Homo sapiens: one gene and its partner. The protein of the gene in region 2 interacts with the protein of the main gene of each other region in a pairwise test. Each region holds a gene or a part of one and is shown on either strand. Other genes may lie near its edges. The genes, in order: XAGE2 and FOXP4.

What was found.
Region 1: the proteins of FOXP4 (region 2) and XAGE2 interact in a two-hybrid assay, tested with the Homo sapiens proteins (one large-scale study listed by BioGRID).

Annotation. Positions count from the first base shown.
Region 1 is NC_000023.11:52,367,798-52,372,110, reverse strand, and holds the start of XAGE2 (X antigen family member 2), read right to left. Parts: upstream 3,091-4,313; 5' UTR 2,897-3,090; intron 2,119-2,896; exon of another isoform or gene 2,105-2,118; 5' UTR 2,097-2,104; coding exon 2,016-2,096; intron 1,545-2,015; coding exon 1,439-1,544; intron 1-1,438.
Region 2 is NC_000006.12:41,587,812-41,591,624, forward strand, and holds part of FOXP4 (forkhead box protein P4), read left to right. Parts: coding exon 1-86; intron 87-832; coding exon 833-920; intron 921-1,061; exon of another isoform or gene 1,062-1,084; intron 1,085-1,959; coding exon 1,960-2,043; intron 2,044-2,151; coding exon 2,152-2,359; intron 2,360-2,459; coding exon 2,460-2,536; intron 2,537-3,409; coding exon 3,410-3,511; intron 3,512-3,813. UniProt on the Homo sapiens protein: Transcriptional repressor that represses lung-specific expression.

The DNA of each region.
Region 1 (4,313 bases), on a different chromosome or scaffold from region 2:
CCAAAGTGCTGGGATTACAGGTGTGAGCCAATGTACCTGGCCTGAAATCTAATATAAAATGACAATCTAAGGATAAATCACACTACACCTTCATTTCCTATACTTTGCCAGTGTGCATTATAAACAGTGAGTATCAACTATGTAAGATATCTGAAGTTTGCTGCATGAATAGCATTTTAATAATAACTCAAAGATAATTTTCTGAAAGACTAGATCAATGTATTCCTGGGCTTATGACAAAAACTTACAATTGTGACAACCATATCTTGCTGAGGTAATTTGAAAATTATTTGGTTAAAATTAATTAAAATTATGCTTAGGTCCAAAGGCCCTAAATGTAACTTTTCATAAATAAATCCTATTGAGAATATAGTACCAAAAATAAGAGGAAAAAAAGTCACAGTTTTCCCATGAGAATTCAGGAAATTGAGTGAAAGAAAGTAATGAGTGTTGTTGACAGTCATATTCTGGAAACCTCTTAACCGTGAACTGCTAAAATAATCCATGGTCCAAATTCCGTCAACTTTAGCTTGAAAATGCTATCTGTTGAGGACACAATTTCTGTTTCATGATAATTGTATCATACTTTGAGTTTTCTAATTATAAAAGTATTTAGGCAACTTTTAAAAGTTCCTTAAAAAGCATACTAATATACCTACCTGTATGCCAGTGTCCTGAACTATCCACCTTTTACCAAACATACTGTCAAAAAATACTGATCAAAGGGAACAGTGGCTGTCATTCATTGAGCCCTTTTCCGGATTTGCTATCCTGCTTCACTGAATTTGTTTTCTCCTGAGCCAATACTCAAGTACCTTACAGTACAGACACATTCGAGTATTAAGCGTTTTAAGCAAAATAATTCACGTTTTCTAATAACGTAGATGTTAGGAAGAACACAGACCTTGGAACGTAATATGAATTCTGCCTCCATGACTCAAGCGTTCTTGGTAAGCCTCTATCTCTGAGCAACCATTTCCTTTTTATAAAATAGGGCTAATATCCCTATGCAAATGGGCTTTATTCAGGGTGTTATAAGGTAGGGTGACTTGGCACTCTATATGCTATAAAAGGGTGCTTATAACACTGTGGACACCATGGCTGAGCCAATCATACAGCAACATTCTAAGAAGATCAAATTAATCAAGTGAAATAATGTACATTTTGATACATCAAATTAAACAGTTTCATCTGATTTAGCAAGGGATGTATTTTCAAGCATACAAAATAAATCTTGAAAAAAAGAGAAGATTTATTATATCCAGGGACTGCATGAAGCTGCAAACTATACTCTTCACTTTTCCAGCCTACTTTGAGCAAGTGCTTGAGATCCTTTCCTAATGTTTTCTTTCCTCCTATTACTGGTCATGGCATAAGGCATGATGGACACATAGGCCTCCTTCCCCCTATAGGCATTATTTCTTTCCTTTCCCAGCACCTTGAATCTCAGCTGCACCCTGATCATCTTCTCTCTTCTGATCAGGTGTAGGATTCCGACTTTTAGTGGGTGGTTTCTCTTCTTTAGGCTCTTCATCAGTGGGTTCCTGGGACAAAGGGGAGGCAGTATGTGTGCAGATAAAAAGTTTTGTTAGTAATACATGTCAATAATACAAATATACAGAATACACAGGTATTTCTAATCACAAGTAAGTCTAAAGACACTTCTCCAACACTGTTCCACATACTTATTCTTCACAAAGTTACTCTTCCCAAAGAGAGGTTACTCTAAGACAGTTACCCTCAAAGGCTTTGGAAACCATTTTAATCTATGTTGGGTTGGATGTGTGCAATCTGTTATCAGTAAGCATGAGGAGGAAGTCATGATGGGGAACACAAGATTATCCATGAAGGCAAAATCAGATTGTAATACTCTTGGATTAGTCTTTCCTTCATGAGATGCATGATCATTTTTATCAACATGGAAGACCTTTATCAGTGTATCTATACTAGTTCAACAACACTATCACAAAAGAAATTTCTGCTAATAAAAAACATCAAAATATTAAAGCACTCACAAGCATAGCCCCAATCAGCTCAGGAGGCTGTAAACTTCTTCTTGGCCTAGGCCTATATGTTGATCTTCCTCGCCAACTCATATTTCACTCTGCAAACAGAATACTGTGATTGGGAAAGTGTGTTTGAGAGGATAGCTGTATTTGACCACTTTCATGGCCAAATGTTAAATTTCAGTTTTTAAAAAAGTTTGGAAATAATTTGAAAGTAAGTCCCAGGGCAACTAGAAGTGTGTACATCTTCTGAATCGAATGCTTGCATAGCCACTTAAGTTGGGCAATCTAGCAGAGCAATGTCTTAATGCTCCTGGCAAAAGATACAGGATATTTCTGATGAGATTTGGTTTCACAGTTGGATTCTCCATAGTGGAGACATTTAAGTTTATACAGCTAGAGAATTAAAACTGCAGTGACCACGGCTTTCGTCACACACCCATTTGTTTGGACGATTTCCCTCCCTAAAATCAAGGTTTTGTTGGAAAGCACAGTCCCGCCCATTCGAACCTCCAGGGTGGAGTTGAGAAGTTGTGACACATCACTGGACGCTCCTCGCTGGACATTTCTACCCGGAGCTCTACAGACCTCGGGGTCGCGGTCACCAGCTCATAGCATTCCCACTTCCCAGGCCCCTTTCTTACCGCTTACACAGCCCATTCCTGGGTCCCTACCAAGAAGTCTGGAATCTGTCCCATTGGGAGTTCCAGGCACTTTCGGGACTCAGATACCTCCAACAGCACCCCGAGCATTCACCCTATCTTCATCTGGCTCCCCTTCACTCCGCGGCCCACCTTCCTTATGACCTGGAAGCTTTTTACTCTCTGAGGCCACAGACCACGCCGCCTGACCCTCTGGAAGCCCGCTCACTCCTCCTCACATTCACTCACATTTCAGTTCCTGGGAGGACTGGCCTGCGGACCTATAGGCTGCGTCTCAGTAGGAGAGAAAGAGTCCAGACGGCTGGAACGTGCCCCTCACACTCTCACAGCTCCCCAGCGGTCACCACGTGGGCAAAGGGGTCGAAGGGAAGATGCCCAGTGAACATGCACACTGAGGCAGGTGTCCAAGGAACATGCACACTGAAGTCGGTGCCTGCGTTGTGTGCTGCAGTGCCCCGCCTCGCCCCACCCCATCCCGCGTCATGCAGTCCTCCCTCCCCTCCCTGGTTCCCACTGAGGACTCTGGAATGCATCGTCTGTAAGCAGTTTCATATGCCTCGCGGACTCAAATACCACAAATAGTTTCCCCCTTCAAAACTCACTGCTTGTTTACCTGACCCTCCTCCCATCTATGGTCCTTCTCCCTCCCTTGTCCGGCACCCCCACCACAGCAAGGCCATGGCTGCATCGCTGCGTGTTAGAAGGACGGGGACCTCAAAGCCCTTCCACCTAGGAGGCCATGGATCGTGCCCGCAGGCTCCTCCTCACACTCACTCACACTCAAACTTCTAGGACTACTGAACTGCAGACCTACTGGCTGACTCCTAGTCGGCAAGACAGAAGGAAGTCACGATGTCTCTTTGCACAGCTCTGCTGGGACAGAAGGCAGACAGTAAGGCGCATGGGCAACAAGGGACTTGGGCAGTAAGGGGCGTTCACACTGAGTCAGGCACATGCAAGGCCAGCCAGGGTTTTCCCACTGTCCCAAAACCAGAATCCCCAGTATGTTTGTAGTAGAAAGAAAGGGACTTAAGAGATATTTTTTTTTCTCTCTCTCTTGTCCTACCATTCTCATGCATCCAGAAACTTTGGGAACAGAGAGTCCCATGTCACCCTTAGTGGTTGATGTGTCTCAGAAAGACCTTTTGTGACAGAAATAAATTATTTTAATGTTTATATTTATACATGCTTTTTTTTTCCAGACAGGGTGTTACTTTGTCGCCCTGGATGGAGGGCAATGGCATGACTTTACCTCACTGCAGCCTGGATCTCCTGGGCATAAGCAATACTCAAGACGCAGCCTCCGAAGTAGTTGGGACTACAGGTGTGTGCCACCATGCCCAGCTATTTTATTTATTTATTTACTTAGAGACAGAATCTCACTACATTGTCCAGGCTGGTCTCAATTTCTGGGATCGAGTGATCCTCCCACCTTGGCCAATTTTTATTCATACTTTGATTAATCACTTCCTTCTCTGGTCTGAGGTTTTCTGCCATGCTACCAATGAATAGAACCACTTCTGTAGACTAAATAAATTCACACCTCTTCCTTTTTTAGGTGGTATTATTGCACATTTTAATCTCTGGACTGGTAACTGATTTCCCTGAATATACCTGTAGGTCATTCAGACAGTGTATGGTTCAG
Region 2 (3,813 bases):
CCCGGCTCCCACCCCCTGTACGGACACGGAGAGTGCAAGTGGCCAGGCTGTGAGACCCTGTGTGAAGACCTGGGCCAGTTTATCAAGTAGGTGTCACCCCCAGCCCCTCCCCCAGCAGCCTTTCCCCACAGGGCCTCTCCCCCAACCCTGCCCACTAGCTTGCCCCTTCTGGGAGCCCTCCTCACTAGCTGTACTACTGTCCTCACTCCAGAGGGTTCTAGTTCTTTCTCTGCCCCCCACGGACTCCCTGATCACCCACTCCCTACCCTGTCTATATTTCTGGGCCTGCATTCCCCTGACTCCATCCCCAGCGCAGGGTGCGGGTAGGAGAAGGAGAGGACAAACATAAGCATTACTCCTCCCCCCACCCTCCCCTGCTCCCCTCCAGCCTCAGCCCCGGGGAGTGATGGCGAGTGACAGGCTGAGGGCCGCAGACAGGCAGGGCGGGAGGTGGACGGGCGGCTGGCAGCAGGCGGCCAGCTGCCACAGCCGTGCCAGGCTCTGTCACTGACTGATTAACTCCGCTGTCTCCCAGACCCTTGCAGCATCAGGGTCAAACAAATTGTTTTCACGCTTCGTCAGAGGTTTACTTAATTAGTTCATTTGCAATTAGATCTCTCTGTAGCTGGGATTTTAGCAAAGACATCAAAGGAGGCTGACGAGAAGGGAGAAGCCTTCCTCCATTGCCCCGTTTTTCCACCTCTTTCTCTTCTTTGTATCTCTTGGTCTGTCTGCTTTTCAGGCCATGGGTGGGATTAGAGGATAGGATGGGAGGATGGTGGCAGCAGGGAAACCGGAGCCAACTTTCTCTCCTCCTCTCTTCCCCTTGAAGACACCTCAACACAGAGCACGCCCTGGATGACCGGAGTACAGCCCAGTGCCGGGTACAGATGCAGGTGGTGCAGCAGCTGGAGATCCAGGTGTGGCCCGGAAGATGCTGGGGAGGGACATGGTGGGCTCCAGCCCCTGCCCACCCACAGCACTGACTTGCTAGGTGGGCTCTGTTGGGAGGGTCTCATGGAAGGGTCCTATGGTCAAAGCCACCATCTTATGCTTTCTAGGTCCTAATGACCATGGTTGTGAGGTGAGGACAGCTGGATTCTGAGGGGTAAACCAAGGTTGGGGGCGTCTCTGCTGGGAGGTCCAGAAGAGACTCACGCTACATAGAAACATCAAAAATAATTATTAGCAGCTAACATATGGAGCACTTACTTTGTGCTGTGCTAAATACTTTATATAGCTCAAGGAATCCTCTCAACAACCTTATGTGGTGGGTACCATTATTCTCCCCATTTTCCAGATGGAGAAAACAGGCACACAGAGCTAAAGTAACTTGCCTGTGAGTGGCAGAGCTGGGATTAGAACCCAGGCAGCCTGGCTTTCCCAAGGGAGTATCCCAGCTACTTGAGAGGGGACACTCAGCAGCACAGGGTTCCCAGGAAGCAACTCAGGGCAGCTCCTCTGTGCTTACCCATCTCCCTCCAGCACCTAGCAGAGCATCCTGCTGTGAGAGGGTGGTCATGAGAGACCCATTGAGTTTATGAATGGGGTGTCTGAGCCATTCATCAGTTCCTGCATCTGCATTCAGTATGCAAGGCCCTCACACACAAGTGCCACTGCACAAGGCACAGTGGCCGCCCCCCCGTGGGTGGGTAGGAAGAAGCCTCCCAACATGTAGAGGCAGGGATAAGCTCCAGCCAGGACGCACTGGGAGGGCTCAAATGGTCACCATCCAGGGGAGAAAGGGAGAGGCTTCATGGAGCTGGCAGCCCTTGAGGGGTAGAGCATTGCTGAGGCCTCCCTGGAGCGGGTCACAGAGGGAGCATGGATGCTGAGGCAAGGAGGCGAATGGGGGTGGGAATCGGCGGCCTTCTGAAGAGCCTGGCGGTGGAGGGGTGGGACAACACTGCCTCCAGGGTTCAGCCTCCCGCTCACCTCCTGCTTTGCCACCCTCCACAGCTCGCCAAGGAGAGCGAGCGGCTGCAGGCCATGATGGCCCACCTGCACATGCGGCCCTCGGAGCCCAAGCCCTTCAGCCAGCCAGTGAGTGCTGCTCCCCTCCCCGCCCCTCCCAGAGCCTTCCACAGACCCTGGAGCCTCGGGACCCCCACCCTCGGGCACTGGTCTCAGTACCCTCCCCGTTGCTCACAGCTGAACCCGGTCCCCGGCTCCTCCTCATTCTCCAAGGTGACCGTCTCTGCAGCAGACTCATTCCCAGATGGTCTCGTGCACCCCCCGACCTCGGCCGCAGCCCCTGTCACCCCTCTACGGCCCCCTGGCCTGGGCTCTGCCTCCCTGCATGGTGGGGGCCCAGCCCGTCGGAGAAGCAGTGACAAGTTCTGCTCCCCCATCTCCTCAGGTGAGGGTGGGCTGGGGGCTGCAGGGCGACAGCAGCGTGAGGCTGTTTTTCCCATCTGAGCCCCATATCTGGCTACCTCATCCTCTGCCTGTCTCCCCAGAGCTGGCCCAGAATCATGAGTTCTACAAGAACGCCGACGTCCGGCCCCCCTTCACCTACGCCTCCCTCATCCGCCAGGTGAGCAGGGCAGGTAGGAGGAGGGTGGGGAATGGCACACAGGCTGCTCCCCCAGCCCCCGCCACACCCCTGCCTCCAGGAAGGTCCTGGGGCCAAGCAATGGAGCTGTCCCGCTCCCTCTCACGTGGCGGTCTTCCCTCTCTGCTGTGCGGGGCTCTCCTGCAGGCTGGGCCCTGTCAGCCTGCTGCATAGGGTTATGTGTCTCTGGGGGTGCACACACTGTTCTTCTTACTGACACCCACCGTGGCATTCATGTGCTCATTTCCACGTACACAGCCCGCCATGATAGACTCAGGGTCACTCTTCGTCTCTCTCCTTTGTCTTTCCTCCCTCAAGCCCATGATCTTCATGTCACCAATGTTCACATAGTATTCACACTCAAGCATGAACTTACATCGACACATATGTCCTCCCTGATACCCACACAGGCATGTACACCTTCACACACATTCTTTCTGTCACACACACACTGTGCTTAGGGTACCTTTTGCCAAAATCAGGATAAATTCCAAACAGCCTCCACCCCGTGGACATCTCTCCCAAGAAAGACAGGACTGACTGCTTTCACCCTCGGTGCAGGGCCAGGTACTAAAGGCATTTTCTCTCCAGAAGCAGCTCCAATCCTTCTTGTACAAATACATAGCCCTTGGAGGCTCCTGCCCTCTTTATCCTTGGCCAAGCTATAACCAGCCTGTCCCTCTGAGGGGACCCACCAGCCACCACCCATCTTGTTATCCACACATTTCTGAGCAGGTCTTCTCACAAAGTGAACTCGGGGCTAGGCAGAAGGGAGAGGTACTGGGGGAGGGAACCCAGGGCTGTGACCCTTCGAGGCCCAGGCTGACGGTCCCTTTGCTTGTTCCTTCCCCGCAGGCCATCCTGGAAACCCCTGACAGGCAGCTGACCCTGAATGAGATCTATAACTGGTTCACCAGGATGTTCGCCTATTTCCGCAGAAACACTGCCACCTGGAAGGTGAAGCAGGCCCCTTCCACCTTCTGGGCCCCAGTCACCCTTGGACCTGCCATATCCCATGGAGACCAAGGCTGCCTAACAATTAGTTCCCTAAACCATTAGTCCTGCAGAAACAGCCACCCAAGGGCCCAGCCAGGGCTGCATGCCCACGCCCACCTCAGCAGGGGCTGTGGATTGTTCCATAACCTTTTAATGATCCCTTCCTTCCAGCCTGGTGCTGCCTCCTTTCTGGGAAGCAATCCTTCTCTAGGGTACACCCCCAAGGGCCCCAAAGACGCCAGCCCCACGAGGTAGGGCCTCTA